Regions from separate parts of the Homo sapiens genome. Here regions 1, 3, 4, 5 and 6 are each linked to region 2. Evidence: fine-mapped expression QTL. A gene starts in region 2. Each other region holds a variant in brackets. All regions are shown on one strand. Distances are from middle to middle.

Region 1 (4,088 bases), 270 kb after region 2:
AGTTTAGTCAGAGGAGATAACGTATTATAATAAAATCATATATAATTAAAGGCAGAAATAAGTGCTAAATAGAGAATAAGATTTGAGCTGGGCGCGGTGACTCACGCCTGTAATCCCATCACTTTGGGAGACTGAGGCAAGTGGATCACCAGAGGTCAGGAGTTCAAGACTCGCCTGGACAACATGGTGAAACCCCATCTCTACTAAAAATACAAAAATTAGCCAGATGTGGTGACGCATGCCTGTAGTCCCAGCTACTGGAGAGGCTGAGGCAGGAGAATTGCTTGAACCCAGGAGGCTGAGGTTGCAGTGAGCCGAGATCGCGCCACTGCACTCCATCCTGGACGACAGAGCGAGACTCCGTCTCAAAAAAAATTTTAAAAAAAAAGATTTGAATGCTAAAGAAGAAGCAATCAATTCTCATTATTCATCTACCAGTTGTTTATTCGGCACTTTTTGTCTGTCCAAGATTGTGCTGGATGCTGGTGTATAAAGAAAAGGTAAAGGCCGGGTGCGGTGGCTCACGCCTGTAATCCCAGCACTTTGGGAGGCCGAGGCAGGCAGATCACGAGGGCAAGAGATCGAGACCATCCTGGCCAATATGGTGAAACCCGTCTCTCCTAAAAATACAAAAATTAGCTGGGCGTGGTAGTGCGTGCCTGTAATCCCAGCTACTTGGGAGGCCGAGGCAGGAGAATCTCTTCAACCTGGGAAGCGGAGGTTGCAGTGAGCCGAGATCGTGCCACTGCACTCCAGCCTGGCGACAGAGTGAGACTCCATCTCAAAAAAAAAAAAAAAAAAGGTAAAGGCTAGGCACGATAGCTTACACCTGTAATCCCAGCATTTTGGGAGGCTGAGGCAGGCGGATCACCTGAGGTCAGGAGTTTGAGACCAGCCTGGCCAACATGGTGAAACCTCATCTCTACTAAAAGTACAAAAATCAGCTGAGCGTGGTGGCGGGCACCTACATTCCCAGCTACTCGGGAGACCGAGGCAGGAGAGTCACTTGAACCCAGGAGGCAGAGGTTGCAGTGAACCAAGATCATGCCACTGCACTCCACCTGGGTGACCGTGAGACGCCATCAAAAAAAAAAGAAAGAGGAAAGAAAGAACGAACGAACGAAAGAAAGAAAAGGTAAAATCCCTACTTAAATAATTCACAACCTAGTGATTGGGAGGAAATCAAGGAAGACCTTGTAGAGAAGGTGACACTTGAACTAGACTTTGAAGAATGAACTGGGCTTCATAGGTAGAAAAAAAAATGCAGGCTCAAAAAAGTGCATGACATTTTTGGAACAGCAAGTCATCCAGTGTGGTTAGACTGTAGGAAACTAACTCTGAAAAGACATTGTCAGTTACATCTTGGGTTTGCCTTGACTTTTACTGGAAAATTCCACAGACTTAAGAGAAAAATTAAAATGGACAATTTCCAGGAAAAATCCACTAAACTATTATACATAAGATGTAGCTACAATAAATTACACTTCTGGGTATAATACTTGTTTATGTTTGCATATCATTAATGATCATAGATGACTTATGCCAATTTTAATAGATTAGGTAGTAATTTTTTGTCATTATATTTAATTTTGAATATACTGTAAGAATCCTCTCCAATGAAGTACACATGTCAAATCATCTGGTAATGATTTCATTATGTGTAGGAAAATAAAACATGCTTTAATGCTGTGTGCGGTGGCTCACGCCTGTAACCCCAGCACTTTGGGAGGCCGAGGCGGGCGGATCACGAGGTCAGGAGATTGAGACCATCCTGGCTAACATGGTGAAACCCTGTCTCTACTAAAAAAAATATACAAAAACTAGGCCGGGTGCAGTGGCTCACGCCTGTAATCCCAGCACTTTGGGAGGCTGAGGTGGGCGGA[T/A]CACGAGGTCAGGAGATCGAGACCATCCTGGCTAACACGATGAAACCCCGTCTCTACTAAAAAATACAAAAAAAATAAGCTGGGCGTGGTGGCGGGTGCCTATAGTCCTAGCTACTCGGGAGGCTGAGGCAGGAGAATGGTGTGAACCCGGGAGGCGGAGCTTGCAGTGAGCTGAGATTGCTCCACTGCACTCCAGCCTGGGCGACAGAGCAAGACTCTGTCTCAAAACAAACAAAAAACATGTTTTAATAAGTTACCTGGAAAGTTTTGTGGTTTGTTTTTTGTTTTTTGTTTTTTTTTGAGTAGGAGTCTCACTCTGTCTCCCAGGCTGGAGTGCAGTGTCACAATCTCAGCTCACTGCAACCTCTGCCTCCAAGGCTTGGATGATTCTCCCACCTCAGCCCGCCAAGTAGCTGGGACTACAAGCACACACCACCATGCCCAGCTAATATTTTAATTTATTGTAGAGACGGGGTTTCGCCGTGTCGGCCAGGCTGGTCTGTAACTCCTGGTCTCAAGTGATCTGCCTGCCTTAGCCTCCTAAAGTGCTGGGATTACAGGTGTGAGACACCATGCCTGGCCCCAGTCAATAGGATATTTAATGAAACTTGACATACTGATTGTTAAATTCATCTGGAAGAGAAAGTGCACAAGAAGAGCCAAGAATTTTGGGGAGGAGAAAACAATAAAGGCAAGTCATTATCAGTTATCGAGATATATCAGTGATAAAGCCATAATAATGTAAATAGCAAGAAATGTTGCCTGAGGGCTGGACACAGTGGCTCATGCCTGTAATCCCAGCATTTTAGGAGGCCAAGGCCAACATGGCGAAACACTGTCTCTACTAAAAATACCAAAAAAAAAAAAAAAAAAAAAGGCAGATGTGGTGGCACACCTGTAATCCTAGCTACTCAGGAGGCTGAGGCAGGAGAATCACTTGAGCCCAGGATGTGGAGGTTGCAGTGAGCTGAGATCACATCACTGCACTCCAGCCTACTGCACTCCAGCCTGGGTGACAGAGCGATACTCTGTGTCAAAAAAAAAAGAAAAAAAAAAAAGCCAAGTGGGGTGCCTCATGCCTGTAATCCTAGCACTTTGGGAGGCTGGGGTGAGTGGATCATTTGAGGTCAGGAGTTCAAGACCGACCTGGCCAATATGGCAAAACCACATTTCTACTAAAAATACAAAAATTAGCCGGACGTGGTGGCACGCACTCAAGAGGCTGAGGCAGGAGAATTGCTGAAACCCAGGAGGTGGAGGTTGCAGTGAGCCGAAATCGTGCCACCGCACTCCAGTCGGGGCGACAGAGCAAGACTCAGTCTAAAAAAAAAAGAAGTGATTCCTTAGGAACAGAAAATTATCAATGACTAGCCAATTGCCCTAATACCCTTTACTAGTCAGTCTTTTATTTATTAATCAATATGCCACCTTTATTGTAGACCAAATTCTCCTGGATCAATAAATAAAAGACTGATTAGTAAAGGGTGTTTTTGAAAGGAAAGTTAGACCCCTACTTCAAAGCATAACAAAAAATGTTGCAGGTGGCTTTTGTCTGCAGCTAGAAAACAAAAATTTGTAAAAGTCTTGAATATAAAGATGTATAAATCTTGAGATGGTTAGGGCCTGCCTTCATGGGTCACAAAACGAAGAAGATTTAAAGGAGAAGATAGATTTGTCTATTAAAAAATAATAATTTGCCATGACAAAAAAACATAAAATTTAGTCAGGAGACGAAATAATATTTGCAATTACAAAGGCTTCATTGCTTGATCTTAGGAGGTCAAAGCTGCATGAGCCATGATCATGCCACTGCACTCCAGCCTGGGTGACAGAGCAAGACCCTGTCTCAAAAAAGCCAAAGGCTTTGTATCCATGTTATAAATCAGTAAGAGAAAGATAACCCAGCAGAAAGATGGTCACATTTCCAAAGAAGAAATTCATATTAAAAGATGTTCATCAGCTGGGCTTGTGGGCTTACACCTATAATCCCAGCATTTTGGGAGGCTGAGGTGGGAGGATCTCTTGAGCCCAGTTCAAGACCAGCTTGGGCAACATGGGAGACCCCATCTCTACAAAAAAATAAATTAGCCAGGTGTGGTGGTGTGTGCCTGTGTTTGCAGCTACTCAGGAGGCAGAGGTGGGAAGATGGCTTGAGCTCGAGAGGTTGAGGCTATAGTGAGCTATGATTGTGCCACTGTGCTTCAG
Region 2 (4,088 bases):
AGAGTCCCACTCTGTTGCCCAGGGTGGTCTCGAACTCCTGAGCTCAAGGGATCCTCCTGTCTCAGCCTCCCAAAGTGTTGGGATTACAAGGCATGAGCCACCACACCCATCCCAAAATTTTTTACATAGTTCAACCTGAGAAGTTATGAGAATGTATTTATGAACAAATTGAACTTGAATGAAAGCAAAGGCCACAAAGAAGAAAGCAGGCATGCCATCTCTCCAGGTCCTGTCCACATCTAGGATATAGAAAAGAACAGATCTACAGACTCATGCTGAACCCAGTTATTGATCATCTCCAGACCTGCTTTACAATACCAACCTATGTGTAATTCTCATATTCCACCTTCAAACAATACATTAACAACACTTGCTCTATAATCCAGCAACCATATCAACTTAATCAGAAAGCACCACCTCACTTCTTAGAGGAACACAAGAACTAGATTTTGTTATGACTAAACTAAGGAGACAAAATGCCAGCCTTTAAATAAAATATCCACCATGATATCACCTCTTAAGAGTTATTCAAATCTCATCAGCACACTTTCATCAGGCTCAGACAGGCACATCATGACACAAAGCGGAATGTTCAATGGTGGCAGAACAGCTGCTCAGAGCAGTAAGAGATATGAGCAAGGGATCTGTTGACAATCTAATTTCAGCTACCTCGAGATTCCACAAAGATGACAGCCTGCGTCCTCAGAAATGCCGCCACTAGCCTCGCCCACTATCAGAATACTCTGGTTTACTTCTTCTCTGCAAGTCGAGCGACTCTGAAAATCTATCCATCCAATGCTCTACGGCTACTCGAGGCCTCCATACTGATACAGTGGCCTTAGCAATTCTCAGATCGGCCTATGCACATGTAAAGCATCAGCAGGCCTTTCACAGCCCCCGCACTGGACGCAGAAGATGAATAGAGAAACACGGAATTTCACCCCAACAAGAATGGAATCTTGAAGGCAGTTTACCTTGGAAGCTCATTTAGCAATCAAGGAAAAAAAAAAAAAGGGATCTGGAAGCTCCATTCTGGCGTTAGGGGCGGGAATGTTTTGTGTTGCATGAACAATGACTAGCTTGCTCAAGCAGCCTCCCAACCCCCACAACTTGGCTTCTGGTCTGGCCAGTCACCCTGAAAGCTGCCAGGGCTGTCACTCGGTGCCTTCCAACAACTGGACTTGGCTCCTAAAGGATTTGTCAGATCATCCTCCCAATATGGCTGCCCGAGTAATCCCAGTCGGCTGAATGCCGAGACCACACCAGCCTTCCTCACACCTGGCCAGCATCCAACAAGCCCCCTCCCTTCCTATCGCACCCCTCTTTCCAGGCCTCGAGCCCTCGGCTCCCCCAGCGCCAAGCGATGACCTTTCCTATCGCCATCTGGCAAAGGGCATAACCACATTCCCAGCCGAAGCCCGATGCCCACCACAAAGGAGGAAAGGGGAGAGGGAAAATGAGAAACGATGGCTTCAAACGAAGCACAGCCGCCCCCCGGGCTGCAACGTGCGCGGAGCCCAGGGAACGGCCAGGCAGCGGCGGGTCTGGAGAGCGCTGGGCACAGCCGGGGCCTGGCAGCGCGGGGGAAACGGAGGGCCGGTGCAGGGCACTGCGGGGGCCCCAGCCGACCGCTGGACGCCGGCCCGGGACTCGCTGCTGGCCTAGGGAGGGGTCCCCTCCCCCGAGGGCGAGGCTCCCGCACCCGGCGCCCGTCCCGCGCTACCTCCCCTCAGACCCCGCCCGGACCCCGGCCCGGCCGCTCCTCCCCGCGGAAGCGGCCCCCTCCCCAACCCCGCGACCGCGGCGCCAACCGCGGCCAGCCCCGCCGCCTTACCTCAGCCGCGCTGCAGACCGACGGGCGGACCGGGTCAACAGGAGCCGCGGCGCGCGGGGGCGCGGGGGGCCGGGCACCGACGCACCTCAGCGCGAGCAGCGGCCGCCGCGAGCCGCAGGGCGCCGCTCCGCAGCCCCATCACGCAGCAGCCCGGCACCGCATCGAGGTGGGAGGTGGGCGGTGGGCGGCGGACAGGAGTGCGCGAGTGCGGGAGGCCAGGGCGCGGCGACGGCCGGCGGTGACGGCTGCGGAGGACGGGGAGCTGCTCCGACGCGCGCGGGCGCCTCCCAGGACCGCTGCCGTCACACTGCCCCGCTTCGGCCCTCGCGAAACTCCGCCCGCAGTCGCCGGCGCGGGACACCGCCCCGAGCTGGGCCTCTGCGCGTCACCTCGTATCCGCCCCGGCGCCCGCGACGGACACGGGCTGTGACCAATCACAGCACAGAGCTCGGGGCGGCCAGCCAATCGTAGGGTGAGCCGGGGAGTGGGGCTGCTGCGGGGGGCTGCAGGAACATCGAGCGCCCCCTGGTGGCCCTCGGGCCGGCTCAACCAGGGGTGCGGGCTGGCCAAAGCCGGAGCCCGGAGTTCCCTCCCGGGTGACCCCCAAGGGCATTCGTCGGAATCAGCCGCCCCCAGCCACCCCGATAATCCGCCTTATACGGGGACAAAAGATTGACTGAGTGGAGCGGGGCGGGGCCCAGGGGTCCTGACGCCCGCAGAGGAGCTGGGATCAACATGGGAGGCGCCGAGAGTGGAATCATTGTCCGTCGGAAAACATCTCGCAGGCGGAACCGGCCGAACGCGGCGCGGTGGGAGCGGAACCCCGAGAGGGGATGAGCGCATCCCGCGGGAAGCTGCCTGGCCTATTCTTACAGAACCCGAGCAAAACACCTCCCACGCGCCACCTCGGGAGAGAAGGCGGAATGAGTAATGGAAAAGCATGACTTGGTGGGCATTCCACTTGTCTCCTTGGGAGACCGCGGAAGGGCTGTGAGGAGAGGAACAAACGCTTTGCACCGTCCCTGAGTTAACGAGCCCAGCCCCCTTCTGGGAGATGCCCTTGAAGGAGGGAGAGTGGAAGTTAGAAACCCGGAGGACACAAAAGCACGAGCAGTGATTTCTTTAAAATCAGATTTAGATTCAGCTGGAAAGAAAAATCTCACTGTTCAGAAACTGTTCAATTCAGTACTTAACAAAATATAATCTTCAGTGATAATATATTCAATTATCAGGCCCAGGCCGAGCACTATTACTTTATAAGGTTGTGAATTATTTTTATTTACTAGCAGACATTGAAAGTAAAATCACATGTCTTCCCCTGAATTAAATACAGTATTATTGTGAGTAAAAGGTATTATGTACAAGCATATGCACTAAAACATCGAAATTAATTTTCTACACTAATAATTCTGGAAAATCTCCACCACCACTCAAGTCCTCAGACTCTTCATCCGCTTTTATTGATCACGTCTCATTTTATAGAATTTAAGCTCCACCTACCTGCAAAAGGATTTGACATAGCTTACACTAAAGCATACAGCAGTGAAACCGTATAGCTTTAAAATAGGCGTAAAATTCATAATAATGAAACAAGCAAGAGACTTTTTAAAAGCTGTTTGAATGAGAGGCATGCCTAGAAAGAAAAATTTTTTTGTTTTGTTTTGAGACAGAGTTTTACTCTCGCCCAGGCTGAGCTCAGTGGCACGATGTCAAATCTCTGCAACCTCCGCCTCCCAGGTTCAAGCGATTCTCCTGCCTCAGCCTCCCGAGTAGCTGGGATTACAGGTGCCTGCCACCACGCCCGGCTAATTTTTGTATTTTTAGTAGAGACGGTGTTTCACTATGTTGGTCAGGTTGGTCTTGAACTCCTGACCTCAGGTGATCCACCTGTCTCAGCCTCTCAAAGTGCTGGGATTACAGGAATGAGCCACCGCGCCCGGCCAGAAAAACAATATTTTAAAAATCCATAGTCAAGGAAATATGTTGCCACTGAGCACAGAACTCAGCTCTTAGCTTCCTGACGGCTAAGAGTAAAATGAAACTATAGTAGGTTAATAAAGAGGAACTCATCAATTCAACAGTAGACACCACTTCATCATAGCGTGGACCTCCTTGCGTAAATACTGTGGTGAGCGCCATGGAGAGTTACGAAAACCTGGGTGGCTGTATTGCTTGAGCTCTCAATGGAGCACAATCTAAAAAGAATCTAAAACGTAGTGAAGAACCAGGCGCGGTGGCTCACGACAGTAATCCC
Region 3 (4,088 bases), 870 kb after region 2:
GTTCCCAGGCAACTTGTCCTGAAATGAACAGAAACTCACCAGCAAAGAAGAAAGTATACTTCCTCCTGGGCGAGGCCGGAGCTGGCAAGAGAGTGGCCAGGGCAGCATCTGGCTGTGCCCCCTGTCCTCCCCAGCAAGTGCTGTCCTGGGTGGCCTTAGGTACACTGACCCCCACAAGTGCTGTCCTGGAGGGGCCTTAGGCGCAGCCAGGATAGCCTAGGCATGGATCCCCAACTGCCTCCTGTCACAGCACACCCAGAGCCCCCATACAGTCACGAACCTCCTCCCTGGGGACAGGGTCTCCCCTGGGCAGGGGCACCCCACAAAGGGGTCCTGGGGAGCCCACGGCCAGGGCCTTGGCTGTCTCCCAGGTCTCCATGAGCAGAAGCCTGAAGAAACGGGGTAGGGGAGAGCTGAGTGGCACCCCCCAACCGCCAACCTCCATGTCTCCAGGTCTGGGGGGAGGAGCGAGGGGACAGGGGACCTGCAGGGAGAGATGTTGGCCCCTCCCCCATCTGAGCACTCAATGTCTTCCAGGAACCAATTCAAACCTGCTCCCTCTTCCCTGCACCCCAGCTGAGGAGGTGGGGACATCTCCATCCCTGCCTTTTTTCAGAGACAGGCTGCTGACCTTGGCCAGAGCGTTGGCAGCAGACCCACGTCCCTTCCTCACCGGAAGAGCCACCAGGTCACTCTCTTAAGTTACCCCTCCCGCCCCTAAAGGTGCTCTTGGGTCTGTTTTTCCCCATGCTGATCTTCGGCTAGAGCAGCTGCCCTGGCTTCATGGGGCGTCCCAGGAGAGACAGAGACAGAGTGAGGGAGCAAGAGAACGAACGGAGGCAGGGAGCAGGGAGGTTCATCCTTACCAGCGGCTCTGCAGCCTCCACGGATATTGGCTCAGGGCCCCGGTGGCCAGGGAGTCCCCATCAGGAGGGTGGCCTGAGGCTCTGAGCGGATGCCACCCCCAGAGAGGCACCTAACTGGGGACCCCACCTCAGCAAGGCTGGAGGCGCTGCACTCACAGCTGAAGGGGAGAAAAGCCCGCAGAGGGCTGGGGTGCGAGGTTAGGGTGCACCCCTCCCCTACCCCCAGCCTCACCCTGTTCTCCCATCCCCCCAAAGAGGGCTTCCTGTCCCCAAACCATGGAGGCCTTAAAGTTAAAACGAGTGAACAATCTCACTGGCTAGGTGGGCAGGTGGCTGGCCAGGTGTGAGGTGCCTGCCCTGGCCACACTCCTCCCCTGAGTGTCAGGAGCCCTCTCCTCTTTCCCCCACTGAGCCCCCGTCCTTGGCCTCTTAGAGGGACTTCAGGGCCAACTCTTGTCCTCCACTCTGCCTTGGAGGGGGAAGGCCATTGAGCTGGAGCTAATCCCGGGGGTTAGAGGCTCAGATCCTGACTCTGATGTGCTGGTAACATAAATGGACCGTTTCTAGGACAACCAGATGGAAACGACCAGAAAGCACCCCTTCCCCTCTCATGTAGGCCCCTTGTCATCTCTTCTCATTGGGACAAGCAGAACTGATGGAGGAGTTTCTTAGAATGCCAGGAGCATTTGGGGCAATGATGCCAGAGAGAGCT[AGAAACATGGTCTG/G]CAGCCAGATGCCAAGGGCCTTGAATGCCACGATAGGGAGTCAGGCCCCAGCACTGTGAAGCGGCCCCTCAGTGGGGACCAGCAGGCACCAGAAGGGGAGGTGCCAGGTTAGAAGGCTCCTTCCCCAAACTCACCCGTACCCGCCTGGGTCTCTGGACAGGGACTATAGAAAGAACTATAAATGGAGATGGAGGGCTAGTGTCCCCCTCTTTCCAGGGAGCAGTGCAGTTTCATCACCGAATGAAAAGGCAGCAAAGGGCAGTGGCTCCCTGAACACAGCAACTATGCCCTTTTATTGTCTCAGAGTGAGGGACCTGCCCGAGCCGGCCAGGAGTTGCGTCCTCACTAGCCCAGCGCCACGGGTGAACTCAGGCAGCGGCCTCCTGCCCCTGCCTCTGCCCCAGACTCTTCCTTGAACGCACGCGGGCAGAGGATCCCCCACTCCTCTTTCTTCCTTTTGCTTTGGGGGAAGCAGTAAAGAACCAGGAGGAGGAGCCGGACGTGGTGGCTCACGCCTGTAATCCCAGCACTTTGGGAGGCCGAGGCAGGTGGATCACCTGAGGTCAGGAGTTTGAGACCAGCCTGACCAACGTGGAGAAACCCCATCTCTACTAAAAATACAAAATTAGCCGGGCATAGTGGTGCGTGCCTGTAATCCCAGCTACTCAGGAGGCTGAGGGAGGAGAATCACTTGAACTCGGAGGCAGAGGTTGCAGTGAGCCGAGATCACACCATTGCACTCCAGCCTGGGCAACAAGAGTGAAACTCCATCTCAAAAAAAAAGAACCAGGAGGAAAAATTAGAAAATTTGTTTTAAGTAAACAGAAAATTCAAAGTGAGTTAACAACCCGAGAAATAACATTTCAAACCAACAACATGAGAGAGCACTGCTCACTTTCCACCTACAGAGACGAGAACAATAAATGCCTACCCTGGAAGCCTGCAGAGAGCCTCAGAGAAGAAAATGGACAGACACGAAGAGTCTTATGGTTCCCAGCACACACTAGGTCCTCAAACAGTGCTGGATGCTTACACAGCTCTGCATGGGGCATCTCTGAGTACCTTGTACTTGATATGTATGAATGCATTAGGTGGTAGCTATCGTTACTACTGTGCACATTGACATTCGGAGGGTAAAAACTCCAAAGATCATCGTCCAGCCACTGATCAAGGGACCAGAGAACCACAACATTCTTTCTTTCTTTTTTTCACAGACAGGGTCCTGCCCTGTCGTCCAGGCTGGAGTGCAGTGGCACGATCATGGCTCACTGCAGGCTCAACCTTCTGGGCTCAAGTGCTCAAGTGATCTTCCTGCCTCAGCCTCCCAAGTACCTGGGACTACAGGAATGCACCACCATGCTCAGCTAGTTTTTTAGTTTTTGTAGAGATGGGATCTCCCCCAGGCTGGTCTTGAACTCCTGGGCTAAAGTAACCCTCCCACCTTGGAATCCCGAAGTGCTGGGATTACAGGCGTGAGCCACTGCACCCGACCCCACAACGATCTTTTTTTTTTTTTTGAGACAGAGACTCGCTCTGTCACCCAGGCTGGAGTGCAGTGGTGTGATCTCAGCTCACTGCAACCTTCACCTCCTGGGTTCAAGTGATTCTCCTGTCTAAGCCTCCTGAGTAACTGGGATTACAGGTGCTCACCACCACACCTGGTTAATTTTTGTATTTTTAGTAGAGACGGGGTTTCGCCATGTTGGCCAGGCTGGTCTCAAACTCCTGACCTCAGGTGATCTGGCCACCTCAGCCTCCCAAAGTGCAAGAATTACAGGCGTGAGCCACTGTGCCTAACCCCACAACATTCTTTTGAGGCACAAAGATACCTTAAAGATCACCCAATGAAAATGCACCATTTTACAAAATGGTGCATTTTACAGGCCCTGTAGAAAACAATACGGCAATTCCTCAAAAAACTCAAAATAGAATTACCATATGACCTAGAAAATCCACTTCTGGGTGTTCACTCAAATAAATGCAAAGCAGGGCCTTGAACAGATATTTGTGCACCCATGTTCATAGCAGCATTGTTCACAATGGCCAAAAGGTGCAAGCAACCCGCGTCCACGGACAGATGAACAAAGAAGCAAAATGGGGCCCATCCCCACGATGAAATATTACTCAGCCTTAACACGGAAGGACATTTTGATACATGCTATATGAGTGAATCTTGAACACGTTATATGAAGTAAAATAAGCCAGTAACAAAAAGACAAATACTATATGATTGCACTTACATGAGGTACCTAAGACAATCGGATCCATAGAGACAGAAAGTTGAATGGTGGTTGCCAGGAGCTCCGGGGAGCAGGAATGGGGGGTCAGTGCCAGGAGCTCCGGGGAGCAGGAATGGGGGGTCAGTGACGAATGGGCACAGAGTTTCCGTTGGGGAAGATAAGAAAGTTCTGGAGATGGACAACGGTGATGGTTGTACAACAATATGAAGGTACCTAATGCCACTGAACTCTTAAAAATGGTTTTAAAATGGTAAATT
Region 4 (4,088 bases), 150 kb before region 2:
ATTATTTTATTTTATTTTTTGAGATGGAGTGTCACTCTGTCGCTCAGGCTGGAGCACAGTGGAGCTATCTCGGCTCACTGCAATCTCCGCCTCCTGGGTTCAAGCAATTCTCCTGCCTCAGCCTCCTGAGTAGCTGGGATTACAGGCGCTCGCCACCACGCCTGGCTAATTTTTGTATTTTTAGTAGAGACAGGGTTTCACCATGTTGGCCAGGCTGGTCTCGAACTCCAGACCTCAGGTAATCCACCTGCCTCAGCCCTGCAAAGTGCTGGGATTACAGGTGTGAGCCACCATGCCTGGCCTAATTTTTGTTTTTGTAGAGACAAGGTCTCACTATGTTAGCCTGGGCTTGTCTTTAACTCCTGGGCTCAAGCAATCCCTTTGCTTCAGCCTCCCAAAGTGGTGGGATAATAGGCATCAGGCACTGTGCCTGGCCCTGTAAGCTTGTTGAGGGTAGGAACTGCGTCTTTTTATTTCTACATTCACAGTATTATCACAGGCCTTCAAACACCTCGAACAAAGGTGTTGAAAATGAATAAACCGAGAGGCTAGTTTGTGGAGCCTTGTGGGAAGACGTTCAGCAAAGAGGAAGGGATTCACACCTTGGTAGCCAGCTCTTTCTCTCGGTCCACCAGGCTTTCGATGTCTCCTGAATCATAGCCACTGCTCTCGCTAGGTGTGATGGCGCTTTCAAAGGTAGTGGTTGAGATCTGAGAGGAGATACTGGTGGAGGTGCTGAGGGTCCCACTGCTGAGGCTGGGGGATAACGAGTCGCTCAGGGATTTGGGGATGCTGTCACCAAGTCTCTCACGCAGCAGCAAAAAGTGGCGGGTTTTTTCCACCTGAGAAGATCAATACTACTGCTATAGCAAACACAAAGCTCGTTAAGACCTCAGGAGAGAAAAGTGAAAAGCTATGATCACATGCAGCAGCGGGGAGGAAGACTGATACTTTGGCAATCTTGTCCGAGAGTTCTTGCATCTGAACAACCCTGCCCCTGGATACCTCATGTAGGAGCTCCAGCTTCTCCAGCTCCCACTGGTGCTCAAGGATGAGGCTGTCTCCACGGGGCCGCCAGCCTGCTAAGTTCTCTTCTCCCCGCACATATGCCACTGACGTATCTAAGATTTTTCTTCTCCTTCTCTGCATACCTAAGACAAGAGGAAACAAGTTTTTGTTTCAGAAAAAAAATTCAATTCCAAGTTTAGGTCAAAACGAATTAATAATTCTTTTTTTTTTTTTTTTGAGATGGAGTCTCGCTCTGTTGCCCAGGCTGGAGTGCAGTGGCGTGATCTCAGCCCACTGCAAGCTCCGCCTCCTGGGTTCATGCCATTCTCCTGCCTCAGCCTCCCGAGTAGCTGAGACTACAGGTGCCCGCCACCATGCCCAGCTAATTTTTTGTATTTTTAGTAGAGACCGGGTTTCACTGTGTTAGCCAGGATGGTCTCGATCTCCTGACCTCGTGATCCACCTGCCTCAGCCTCCCAAAGTGCTGGAATTACAGGCGTGAGCCACCGCGCCTGGCCACGAATTAATAATTCTTATACGTAGCAAACTAAGACAGTTTGGTCTGAAGATATATGGGATTTTGTTTAAATAGCAAAGCAACTGAACGTTTTTAAAAACTGAGTTTTACATTCTTTGATAATTATGAAGACTGGGATGCAATTTAAGAAAATGATAAAATTATGATGTTAGGTGAAAATGCAGAAATATTAAATAGTCTGTAGTAGTCTATACACTATGGGGCCGGGCGTGATGGCTCACGCCTGTAATCCCAGCACTTTGGGAGGCTGAGGTGGGCTATCATCTGAGGTCAGGAGTTCGAGACCAGCCTGGCCAACATAGTGAAACCCCATCTCTACTAAAAATACAAAAATTAGCTGGGCATGGTGGTGGGTGCTTGCAAACCCAGCTACTCAGGAGGCTGAGGCAGGAGAATCACTTGAACCCAGGAGGCAGAGGTTGCAGTGAGCCAAGATGGCGCCACCACACTCCAGCCTGGGTGACACAGCGAGACTCTGTCTCAAAAAAAAAAAAAAAAAAAAAAGATCCTGTCCCTAAAAATAAAAATTTTTAAAAAGACGGAAGGGAATACACACACACATACACACACTCAGTAGCTCACTGGCTGACAGATGACAGAGAACTTTAGCCTCTATTATTTCCTGTTAATTTTTTTTAGTATTATGCTGGTTTTACATATTAAATACATGAATTTATATTAATTAAAAAAATTCCTCAAGAAACTATCTGGATAGTATAATAATTAGGTGCTACTTGGATTCATACTCAAAGTCTTCTTTACTTATCTAAGTCT[T/C]GCCTGTGGGCCCTGACTTGTTTTCCATGTATATTCTGTAAAATGACTCAAACTCACATTAATCAAATGCTATTAGAAAACCTTAACTTTTGTTCATGTTTCGGTTTACAAACATAGAAATGCTAAGTGCTGCTTAACTCCGCCTAGCTAGAGGAACAAGAGCAGTTTAAAAACACATTAAAAAGAATACAGAACAAATCTGACTTAATAATTTGATTTTTTTTTCTTTTTCTTTTTTGAGACTGAGTCTCACTCTGTCACCTAGGCTGCAGTGCAGTGGCACAATCTCGGCTCACTGTAACCTCTGCCTCCCAGGTTCAAGCAATTCTCATGCCTCAGCCTCCTGAGTAGCTGGGATTACAGGCACGCGCCACCACACCTGGCTAATTTTTGTATTTTTGGTAGAAAGGGGGGCTTCACCATGTTGGTCAGGCTGCTCTTGAACTCCTGGACTCAGGTGATCCACCCGCCTTGGCCTCCCAAAGCGCTGGGATTACAGGTGTGTGCCACCGTGCCCAGCCTAAATACAGGATACTTGAAACATACACAAAGATAACTATCACCTCCTCAATCCACAAGAGCTTACCTGGACTACCTGTGTCTGACATTTTGCATAAGCTGAGTTCGTAAATGCCAGTGACTCGATTCCTATTTGAAGAAAATAAAACAATTGTTTAATCTCTTAAAGCACAAAAACAGGAAAATTTCAATTTCTGCTACTTAAAATAGTGTCTTCTCTGCAGGGACTCAAATATAATTCCAGGCATTTCTTATTTGTCACCGCTCTTTTCTTATTTTGAACCTAAGTAGCATACCTTTTCCTAGAGGAGTCCGCTTTCATCTCAATTTAATTTTTTTATAGATAGGGTTTCCCTGTGTCACCCAGGCTGGAGTGCAGTGATGTAATCACAACTTACTGCAGCCTCGAACTCCTGGACTAATGTGATCCTTCTGCCTCAGCCTCCTGAGTAGTTGGGACTTCAGGCATACACCACTATACCCAGCTAATTTTTAAGTTTTTTTGTAGAGATAGGGTCTCCTTATGTTGCCCAGGCTGGTCTTGAACTCCTGGCCTCAAGTGATCCTTCCACCTTGGCATCAAAAAGTGCTGAGATTATAGGCATAAGCCACCATGCCCCACCTCATCTCTATCTTTTAAACACTTTATTTCAATAGGGTGAATAAAATTGAATGATAAACTAGAAAATTTAAAATATAAATGTGAAAACTAAAAATTTGTCTTTTCTTACTATAAGAGAGACGATATGAGGGAAACAATGACTAGAATGAAATGATAATCAACAACTTCTGGGGATTGTGAGTAGTAGGAGGTATAATACCTTCTATTGTATTAGTAACACTTATTTTTAAGCTGGGCGGTGATACACAGGTATTCATTGTATTGTTTCTTTCTTTTTTTTTTTTTTCCTTTTTCTTTTCTTTTTTTTAAATTTTGAGACAGGGTCTCACTGTTTCACCCAGGCTGGAGTGCAGTGGCTCTATCATGGCTCACTGCAACCTCAACCTCCCAAGCTCAAGTGATCCTCCCACCTCAGCCTCCTGAGTAGCTGGGACTACAGGTGTGTGTCACCACACCTGGGTAATTTTAAAATTTTCTGTGGAGATGGGGTCTGTGTTGCCCAGGCTGGTCTCAAACTCCTAGGCTTAAGCAATTCTCTGTCCTCAGCCTCCCAACGTGCTGGGATTACAGACATGAGCCACTGTGTATGGCCTTCACTGTATTATTCCTGACATATTTTGTATGCCT
Region 5 (4,088 bases), 20 kb after region 2:
GTGCCACTGCACACCAGCCTGGGCAACAGAGTGAGACGCTGTCTCAAAAATAAATAAAATAAAACAAAATAAATGTAAAAGACTCTTGGAAAAGAGCAGTGCTGGAGGAGAGACACAGGAAGGTTTCTTGAACGGCAGGGTGACGTGTGGGGACGGCACATGGGGAATTATGGCCTACAATTTAATGCCACAAACTCTGTCCACCTCCAGCTCACCAGGCGTGTCCACACACACGCTCACCAGGAGGGCACAGCTTAGGGCCTGAGCCTTGACCTTGCTCAGTACACACTGCTGTTGCCATCCAGGTGGGTTGTAACACCCAGGGGATTAGCAGCCCCAGGAAAATAACCAGACATCTGAGGAGCAAATGGCCAGAAATTGGAGACAATAAACTGAGCAGTTTATATCAGGGGAAGCAGAATGAATGGACTGGACACAACAGAAGTTTTAAATAAGCATAATAAATATCTTCAAAGAGATAAGAGATGCTATTAGTAACAAGTAATAGAATAAGCCTTTTTTTTTTTTTTTTGATACGGAGTTTTGCTCTTTCACCCAGGCTGGAATGCAGTGGCGCTATCTCGGTTCCCTGTAAGCTTCGCCTCCCGGGTTCACGCCATTCTCCTACCTCAGCCTCCCGAGTAGCTGGGACTACAGGCGCCTGCCACTACGCCCGGCTAATTTTTTGTAATTTTAGTAGAGACGGGGTTTCACCATGTTAGCCAGGATGGTCTCGATCTCCTGACCTTGTGATCCACCCGCCCTGGCCTCCCAAAGTGCTGAGATTACAGGCATGAGCCACCACACCCAGCCTGGGTGACAGAGTCTTACTCTGTCACCCAGGCTGGAGTGCAATGGCGCAATCTCAGCTCACTGCAACCTCCACTTCCCAAGTTCAAGCAATTCTCTTGCCTCAGCCTCTGGAGTAGCTAGGATTACAGGCGTGCACCACCACACCCTGCAAATTTTTGTGTTTTTAGTAGAGACGGGGTTTAACCATGTTGGCCAGGCTGGTCTCGAACTCCTGCCCTCATGTGATCCGCCTGCCTCTGCCTCCCAAAGTGCTGGGATTACAGGCATGAGCCACTGTGCCTCACATATAATAATTTACCGAATTGTACATCTATGTTTCATTCATTTTGCTGACTAAGTGTTGAAATAGCTTGGATATTTGTCCCTGCCGAAACCTCATATTGAAATGTAATCTCCAGTGTTGGAGGTGAGGCTTGGTGGGAGGTGTTTGGGCCATGGAGGGATCCCTCGTGGCTTGGTGCCATCTCTACTTGTGATAGTGAGTGAGTTCTTACCAGATCTGGTTGTTTTAAGAGTAAGTGGCGCCTCTCCGCACCTTGCTCCTGCTGTTTCTCTGTGAAGTGTCTGCTCCCCCTTTACCTCCCACCATGAGTAAAAGCTCCCCGAGGGCTCCCCAAACACCAAGCAGACACCGGTGCCACCCTTGTACAGCCTGCAGAACCATGAGCCAATTCAATCTCTTTTCTTTATAAATCACCCAGCCTCATATATTCCTTTACACTGCAGAGGTGTCCAATCTTTTGGCTTTCCTGGACCACATTGGAAGAAGAAGAATTGTCTTGGGCCACACATAAAATACACTAACACTAACGATAGCTGATGAGCTAAAAAAAAAAAAAAAAATCGCAAAAAAAATCTCATAATGTTTTAAGGAAGTTCATGAATTTACGCTGGGCCACATTCAGAGCTGTCCTGGGCTGCCTGCAGCCCACGGGCCCCAGGTTGGACAAGCTTGCTTTATAGCAATGCGAGAATGGCCTAACATAGGTGTTATACTTTATTTATTATTATTATTATTATAATTATTATTATTTGAGATGGAGTCTTGCTCTATCACCAGGCTGGAGTGCAATGGCGCGATCTCAGCTCACTGCAACCTCCGCCTCCTGGGTTCAAGCGATTCTCCTGCCTCAGCCTCCTGAGTAGCTGGGACTACAGGCGCACGCCACCATGCCCAGCTAATTTTTGTATTTTTAGTAGAGATGGGGTTTCACCATGTTGGCCAGGATGGTCTCGATCACTTGACCTCGTGATCTGCCTGCTTCGGCCTCTGAAAGTGCTAGGATTACAGGTGTGAGCCACTGCTCCCAGCCAGGTGTTACACTTTATAATAAAAAGATGGGGCCCAAAGATAAACAACAACAAAACAAACAAACAAACAACAACAACAACAAAACAAAGAAAAGGTGGGCCAGGCACAAGGGCTCACACCTATAATCCTAGCACTTTGGGAGGCCGAGGCAGGAGGATTGCTTGAGCCCAGGAGTTTGAGACCAGAGTGGGCAACATAGTGAAACTCCATCTCCACAAAAAATACAAAAAATTAGCCAGGCGTGGTGGTGCACACCTGTAGTGCCAGCTACTCAGGAGGCTGAGGTGGGAGGATCGCTGGAGCCTGGGAAGTTGAGGCTGCAGTGATCTGTGATCATGCCACTGCACTCCAGCCTGGGCAACAGAGTGAGACCCTGTCTCTAAATAAATAAATAAATAAATAAATAAATAAA[A/TAAAA]TAATTAAAATAAAACTGACTAGGAAGTAAGTTCTAGAATAATACAAACAAAAACCTAAAAAACACGAGAGAAAGGGCAGAAAAGCACATACAGAAGGATAGATAGTTTACAAAGGGAGAAACCTGTGTGGCTAGTTCTAGTTTCTAAGACAGCTGCAACAAGACCTCCAGTCCTCCGTGCTATTCTTGAAACATGGCATTGAGACTCCTCCCTACTGAGAGGTGGGGTCTGTGTTTCCTCTCCTGGAAACCGAGCATGCCTGTGGCCACAGCAGAAGTGATACCATAAGACCTCTGGGCTGCTGGGCCATAGAAACCCAGCTTCTGCCTGGTCTTCTCAGGGTGCTAGCTCTCGGAACCTAGCTCCAGAGAGGGCACACCTGGGTGTGCCAGCCAACAGCCAGATGTGAGTGAGGAAGCCCTAAGGGTGACTCTAGCCTCAGCCACCATCTGACGGTAACAGTGTAAGATCCCTGAGTGAGAACAGCCCAGTGAGCTCAGTCAACCCCAAAACCATGATAGACATTAACAATTTCTTTTTTTTTTTGAGACGGAGTCTGTCGCCCAGGCTGGAGTGCAGTGGTGTGATCTCGGCTCACTGCAACCTCTGCCTCCTGGGTTTAAGCGATTCTCCCGCCTCAGCCTCCCAAGTAGCTGGGGTTACAGGCACCCACCATCATGCCTGGCTAATTTTTGTACTTTTTGTAGAAACGGGGTTTTACCATGTTGGCCAGGCTGGTCTTGAACACCTGACCTCAGGTGATCTGCCCGCCTCGGCCTCCCAAAGCAAAGTGCTGGGATTATAGGGGTGAGCCACTGCACCCAGCCCATGATAGATATTAATAGATTCTGTTTTAAGCCACTAGATTTGGGCGATTAAGATTTAGGTCTTTGGAAGTGGGTGCTGTTGAAACAAAGTATAATGCATGTGGCATTGGCTTTGGGATGGAGTTAGTAGGCAGAGGATAAAAATGTATTGAGAACACCGTTAGTGAGGCTTATAGGAAAGTGAGTAAATACTGTTGGAAACTGCAGGAAAGGGGACCTCTGTTACTTAGAGGTGGAGATTTTGTCAACACCGTTGTCTGCGGTGACTTGGAAAGGAGAAAATCTGCCAAGTGAACTCAATGATCTATGTCAGGAGATGTGAAGGCAGAATAATGAAATACCATTTGGCTTCTTTCATTGCCTGTAGAAAAATGTGAGATGAACTGGCAAAAAAAAAAAAAAATTTAAAAAATTAAGAAATGGCTTCTGGTCAGAAATCAAAAACAGTGCACTTTCGGGACGATATCTAAAGATGGGGTAAAAAATGTGACCGCAGGCCGGGTGCGGTGGCTCACGCCTGTAATCTCAGGACTTTGGGAGCCTGAGGCAGGGGGATCACCTGAGGTCAGCAGTTCGAGACCAGTCTGGCCTACATGGTGAAACCCCGTCTCTACTAAAAATACAAAAATTAGCTGGGAGTGGTGGCTCATACCTGTAGTCCCAGCTTCTCGGGAGGCTGAGGCAAGAGAATCACTTGAACCTGGGAGGCGGAGGTTGCAGTGA
Region 6 (4,088 bases), 35 kb before region 2:
CAAATTCTGTGAGGCTGTGTGGCCAAAGTGAGGATTTTTAGTTTTATTCTAAAAGTGATAAGGACTGGTCGCAGTGGTTCACACCTGTAATCCTAGCACTTTGGGAGGCCTAGGTGGACATATTGCTTGAGCTCAGGAGTTCGATACCAGCCTGGCCAACATGGCAAAACCCTGTCTCTACTAAAAATACAAAAATTAGCTGGGTGTGGTAGCACGCACCTGTAGTCCCAGCTATTTGGGAGGCTGAGACACGAGAACAGCTTGAACCTGGGAGGCAGAGGCTGCAAGTGTGACTAGATCATGCCACTGCACTCCAGCCTGGGCGACAGAGGCTCTGACTCTGACTACAAAAAAAATTTAAAATTACATTAAAATGAAATAAATGTGACAGGAAACCAGTGAAGAATTTTAAGCAGAGGGGTGACATGATCTGATTGCAAAGGGGTGACATAATCTGATTTATATTTCTTTTTTTTCTTTGAGACAGAGTCTCACTCTGTCGCCCAGCAGGCTAGAGTGCAGTGGCACGATCTCAGCTCACTGCAAACTTCGCCTCCCAGGTTCAAGCGATCCTCCTGCCTCGGCTTCCTGAGTAGCTGGGACTATGGGCGTGCACCACCATGCCCGGCTAATTTCTGTATTTTTAGTAGAGACGGGGTTTCACCACGTTGGCCAGGCTGGTCTCCAACTCTTGACCTCGTGATCCGCCCACCTCGGCCTCCCAAAGTGCTGGGATTACAGGCGTGAGCCACCACACCCAGCCCTGATGTATATTTCTAAAATATGACTGGCTACTGCATGGAAACAAGGGCAAAAGCAGAGAGACAGGAGGCTATTGCAGTACTTATCTTGACTAGAGTAGAAATGGCAAAAAGTAACTGATTCAGGATATATTGTGAAGGCAAAGATGGCAAGACTTACTGATTGATATATGTGGCCTATGAGAAAAACGGAGAAGGTAAGAATGACTCCAATATTTTTGGTCTAGGCAACTAAAAGAATTGATAAAAATAAAGGAGGAGCCACTCTGGGTGGTCAGGAAGGGAAAAAACAATAGTTATGTTTAGGACATGTTGAGTTTGAGATGCTTCTGTGGCCTTCAAGTAGAGTTCAGTTGGCAGCTGGGTAGCCAAGTCTATACTTCTAGAGAGAGGTCCAGGCTACAGAAGTGAATCTGGGAGTTATCACCATCTCAATGACATTTAAGCCCCCAGAACTAGAAGAAATCATCTAGGGCGTCTCTCTTTTCTGGAGAGAGAGATCTGAGGACAAAAGCCTGGTGGACTTTAACCGAAGGAGGTAAAGAATAACCAACCTGGGAGGAAGGAAGGCAATTAGGAGAGTATGGGGTACTAAGAGCCAAGAAAATGAACTGTTTGAAGTAGTCAGTCACGTTATATTCCCTACCTTTATTACAATGATTATCATCATAACCACTTACAGGACTCTCTAGAAGAATGAGTTCAGGCTATCTCCTGATTTCCCCAATAACTTGCTCTGCTCACTCTCACCTCCAGGCCTTGCCTCTTGGTTACCATCCAAATCCCATGAGGTTTCAAGGCTGTTTTCCTAAATTTTCCTTCATAAATCTAAAAGGCAGCTTTAACATCTAAGACCTAAATGTATTTTTTTCCAAGTCCAAAGGAAAAATGATCCTTCCTTTATCCTCTCCATACAACTTTTGTATCTTTTCCCTTTTGTCTTCAGGTTTTTTATTCCTAATGGTGTAGCCAACACTAACCTTAGGAGAGCTGGAGAAGGGCAGGACACTATAATTTCCATAAAGGCTGACTTGAAGACTTTTATCCAAGATAAACGTAAATGCTATCAAAATGACTATCACAAAATGTTTCAAAGGTCTTAGTTTACTGATGAACCACAACTGACCATCTTCTCTTTCTTGAAGAAGTTTCAAGTTAAGACTTAAGACAGTCTACTAAATTCCCTAATTTTACCCCCTTTTCTCCCTGCCTTATTCACAACTTTGCTACTTTAGCATAAAGATGCAGAAATAACACTTTAATTACTGAGCCCTAGAAAATAAGGCAGTCAAAACAAGATTAGTATTTAAACGCCTTTTAATTCCCCAGAATAAATTTATCTAATATCTCAGTGTCTAGTAATTATACTGTTGTTGGCAAACTACTAAAGATTTTGCCTGCAACTATAATTGATGTTATCTGTGTGGCAACACTGTAACTTTATATTAACTTTAGTAACCAAGCACGTTTAGGGCTTGTTAAAAATCCCAGT[G/T]ACATCTTCAGCACAATCTTCCGCTCTAAAAGCCTCCTAGAGCAACAATTAAGAAAAATGGCGGCCGGGCGCGGTGGCTCATGCCTGTAATCCCAGTCCTTTGGGAGGCCGAGGCGGGCGGATCACGAAGTCAGGAGATTGAGACCATCCTGGCTAAAACAGTGAAACCCCGTCTCTACTAAAAATACAAAAAATTAGCCAGGCGTGGTGGTGGGCGCCTGTAGTCCCAGCTACTCGGGAGGCCGAGGCAGGAGAATGGCGTGAACCCGGGAGGCGGAGCTTGCAGTGAGCAGAGATCACGCCACTGCACTCCAGCCTGGGCGACAGAGCAAGACTCCGTCTCAAAAAAAAAAAAAAAGGAGGGCCGGGCGCGGTGGCTCAGGCCTGTAATCCCAGCACTTTGGGAGGCTGAGGCGGGCGGATCACCTGAGGTCAGAAGTTCGAGACCAGCCTCAAGATGGGGAAACCCTGTCTCTACTAAAAATACAAAAATTAGCCGGGCGTAGTAGTGCATGCCTGTAAGCCTAGCTACTTGGTAGGCTGAGGCAGGAGAATTGCTTGAACCTGGGAGGCGGAGGTTGCGGTGAGCCGAGATCGGGCCATTGCACTCCAGCCTGGGCAACAAGAGCGAAACTCCATCTCAAAAAAAAAAAAAAAAGAAAAGAAAAAAAAGAAAAATGGCACACAATAAAAATATTTTATACACTGCTTATATTTTAAAACCATAAAACCAAAACCCACAGGCAACTCGCTCCCCTCCTCACAATATAGAAACATAGTAAAACCTATTGCCATAAAGATTTGAGCAAAAGATCTATAATCATAAAGTTCCTTAATCATTTACAACAAATTTAGTTTCCCATTTTTTTATAAAACAGGGATAAATGTACTATACATATTCACTGTATACTTGATCCCAGAGTATTAAAAAACAAATATACAATAGGAAAATAGGAAAAAAATTATAACTCTTCTATAAAACATGTTACTTAGCATACACATTGAATAAACAATCAACAATTCTGCTCTTCCTAAGCAAATTTTGAATGATTCTAAAGAGATATGATTTGCAAGGCCTAGATTTCACTCTACCTAAAATGCCCAAAGACATGTAAACTGATAATCATCTGCCCCTTCCCCGCAGCTTTTTCCTCATAATTTCCCTCCATCAAGAAAATAAATCAAAATAAATTTTAATCTAAGTTAAATTCAAATTAAGCATAGACATTCAGCATTACTGCACAGAATAGTAAAACTTAATAAATATTGTGAGAGGTGATATGCTCTCCAATAGTAAGGGTTCTGGAGACAGCCCAACTTCATTTTCTACTTCCCTCAATTAATAGATATGTGAGCCCAGGCAAGACAGCCAATAATACCTCTTTGTATCAATTCCTTCATCTGTGAAATGGGGAAAGAGTACCTGCCATATAATTATTGCAAGGATTCAGTAAGTTAAAATCTGCCTAATTGTGCCTGGCACAACTTAAGCGTTTGTTGTTTTTAATTACTAATTATGGTATTTTTTCCCCCCACTAAAAGGCAATTGTTTTTTGAGACGCAGTCTTGTTCTGTCACCCAGGCTGGAGTGCAGTGGCACGAACTTGGCTCACTGCAACCTCTGCCTCCCAGGTTTAAGCGTTCTTCCCACCTCAGCCTCCCGAGTAGCTAGGATCACAGGCATGTGCCACTAGGCCCAGCTAATTTTTTTGTATTTTTAGTAGAGACGGGGCTTCACCATGTTGGCCAGTCTGGTCTCGAACTCCTGAGCTCAAGTGATTCACCCGCCTCAGCCTCCCAAAGTGCAGGGATTACAGGCGTGAGCCACCACACCT

Direction of the effects. Alleles are on the strand shown, and positions count from the first base shown. SD is a standard deviation of normalised expression in the study named. Not every link is listed here.
As copies of T replace A in region 1, the expression in aorta of the gene that starts at base 2,143 in region 2 goes down (moderate effect, 0.68 SD a copy in GTEx).

The links. PIP is the estimated chance that this variant, and not a neighbour inherited with it, causes the effect.
Region 1: its variant is the best candidate, but not a certain one, in a credible set for the expression of KIF1B in aorta (GTEx, PIP 0.84).
Region 3: its variant is the best candidate, but not a certain one, in a credible set for the expression of KIF1B in visceral fat (GTEx, PIP 0.59).
Region 4: its variant is the best candidate, but not a certain one, in a credible set for the expression of KIF1B in tibial nerve (GTEx, PIP 0.57).
Region 5: its variant is the best candidate, but not a certain one, in a credible set for the expression of KIF1B in whole blood (INTERVAL, PIP 0.50).
Region 6: its variant is the best candidate, but not a certain one, in a credible set for the expression of KIF1B in whole blood (TOPMed, PIP 0.54).

The regions. Positions count from the first base shown.
Region 1 is chr1:9,938,214-9,942,301 of GRCh38, reverse strand. The region is part of intron 2 of LZIC (leucine zipper and CTNNBIP1 domain containing); the gene reads left to right. Among named protein-coding and RNA genes, the nearest start is that of LZIC, 3.1 kb to the left of the region's middle. RefSeq lists enhancers at 2,477-2,977, 2,978-3,478. The variant T/A (reference allele first, on the strand shown) is at 1,884.
Region 2 is chr1:10,208,625-10,212,712 of GRCh38, reverse strand. It overlaps KIF1B (kinesin family member 1B), which reads right to left and starts at 2,143. Exons shown (of 49, transcript NM_001365951.3): 1 at 1,835-2,143. RefSeq lists an enhancer at 355-1,010 and silencers at 1,912-2,431, 2,462-2,541, 2,628-2,922.
Region 3 is chr1:9,334,522-9,338,609 of GRCh38, reverse strand. All of the region lies in intron 1 of SPSB1 (splA/ryanodine receptor domain and SOCS box containing 1), which reads right to left. Among named protein-coding and RNA genes, the nearest start is that of SPSB1, 44 kb to the right of the region's middle. The variant AGAAACATGGTCTG/G (reference allele first, on the strand shown) is at 1,579.
Region 4 is chr1:10,362,163-10,366,250 of GRCh38, reverse strand. It overlaps KIF1B (kinesin family member 1B), which reads right to left. Exons shown (of 49, transcript NM_001365951.3): 41 at 2,907-2,968; 42 at 1,006-1,151; 43 at 603-842. Among named protein-coding and RNA genes, the nearest start is that of PGD, 35 kb to the left of the region's middle. The variant T/C (reference allele first, on the strand shown) is at 2,321.
Region 5 is chr1:10,188,640-10,192,727 of GRCh38, reverse strand. No RefSeq gene overlaps it. Among named protein-coding and RNA genes, the nearest start is that of KIF1B, 20 kb to the left of the region's middle. RefSeq lists an enhancer at 3,040-3,089. The variant A/TAAAA (reference allele first, on the strand shown) is at 2,538.
Region 6 is chr1:10,243,139-10,247,226 of GRCh38, reverse strand. The region is part of intron 2 of KIF1B (kinesin family member 1B); the gene reads right to left. Among named protein-coding and RNA genes, the nearest start is that of KIF1B, 35 kb to the right of the region's middle. RefSeq lists enhancers at 2,107-2,606, 2,607-3,108. The variant G/T (reference allele first, on the strand shown) is at 2,254.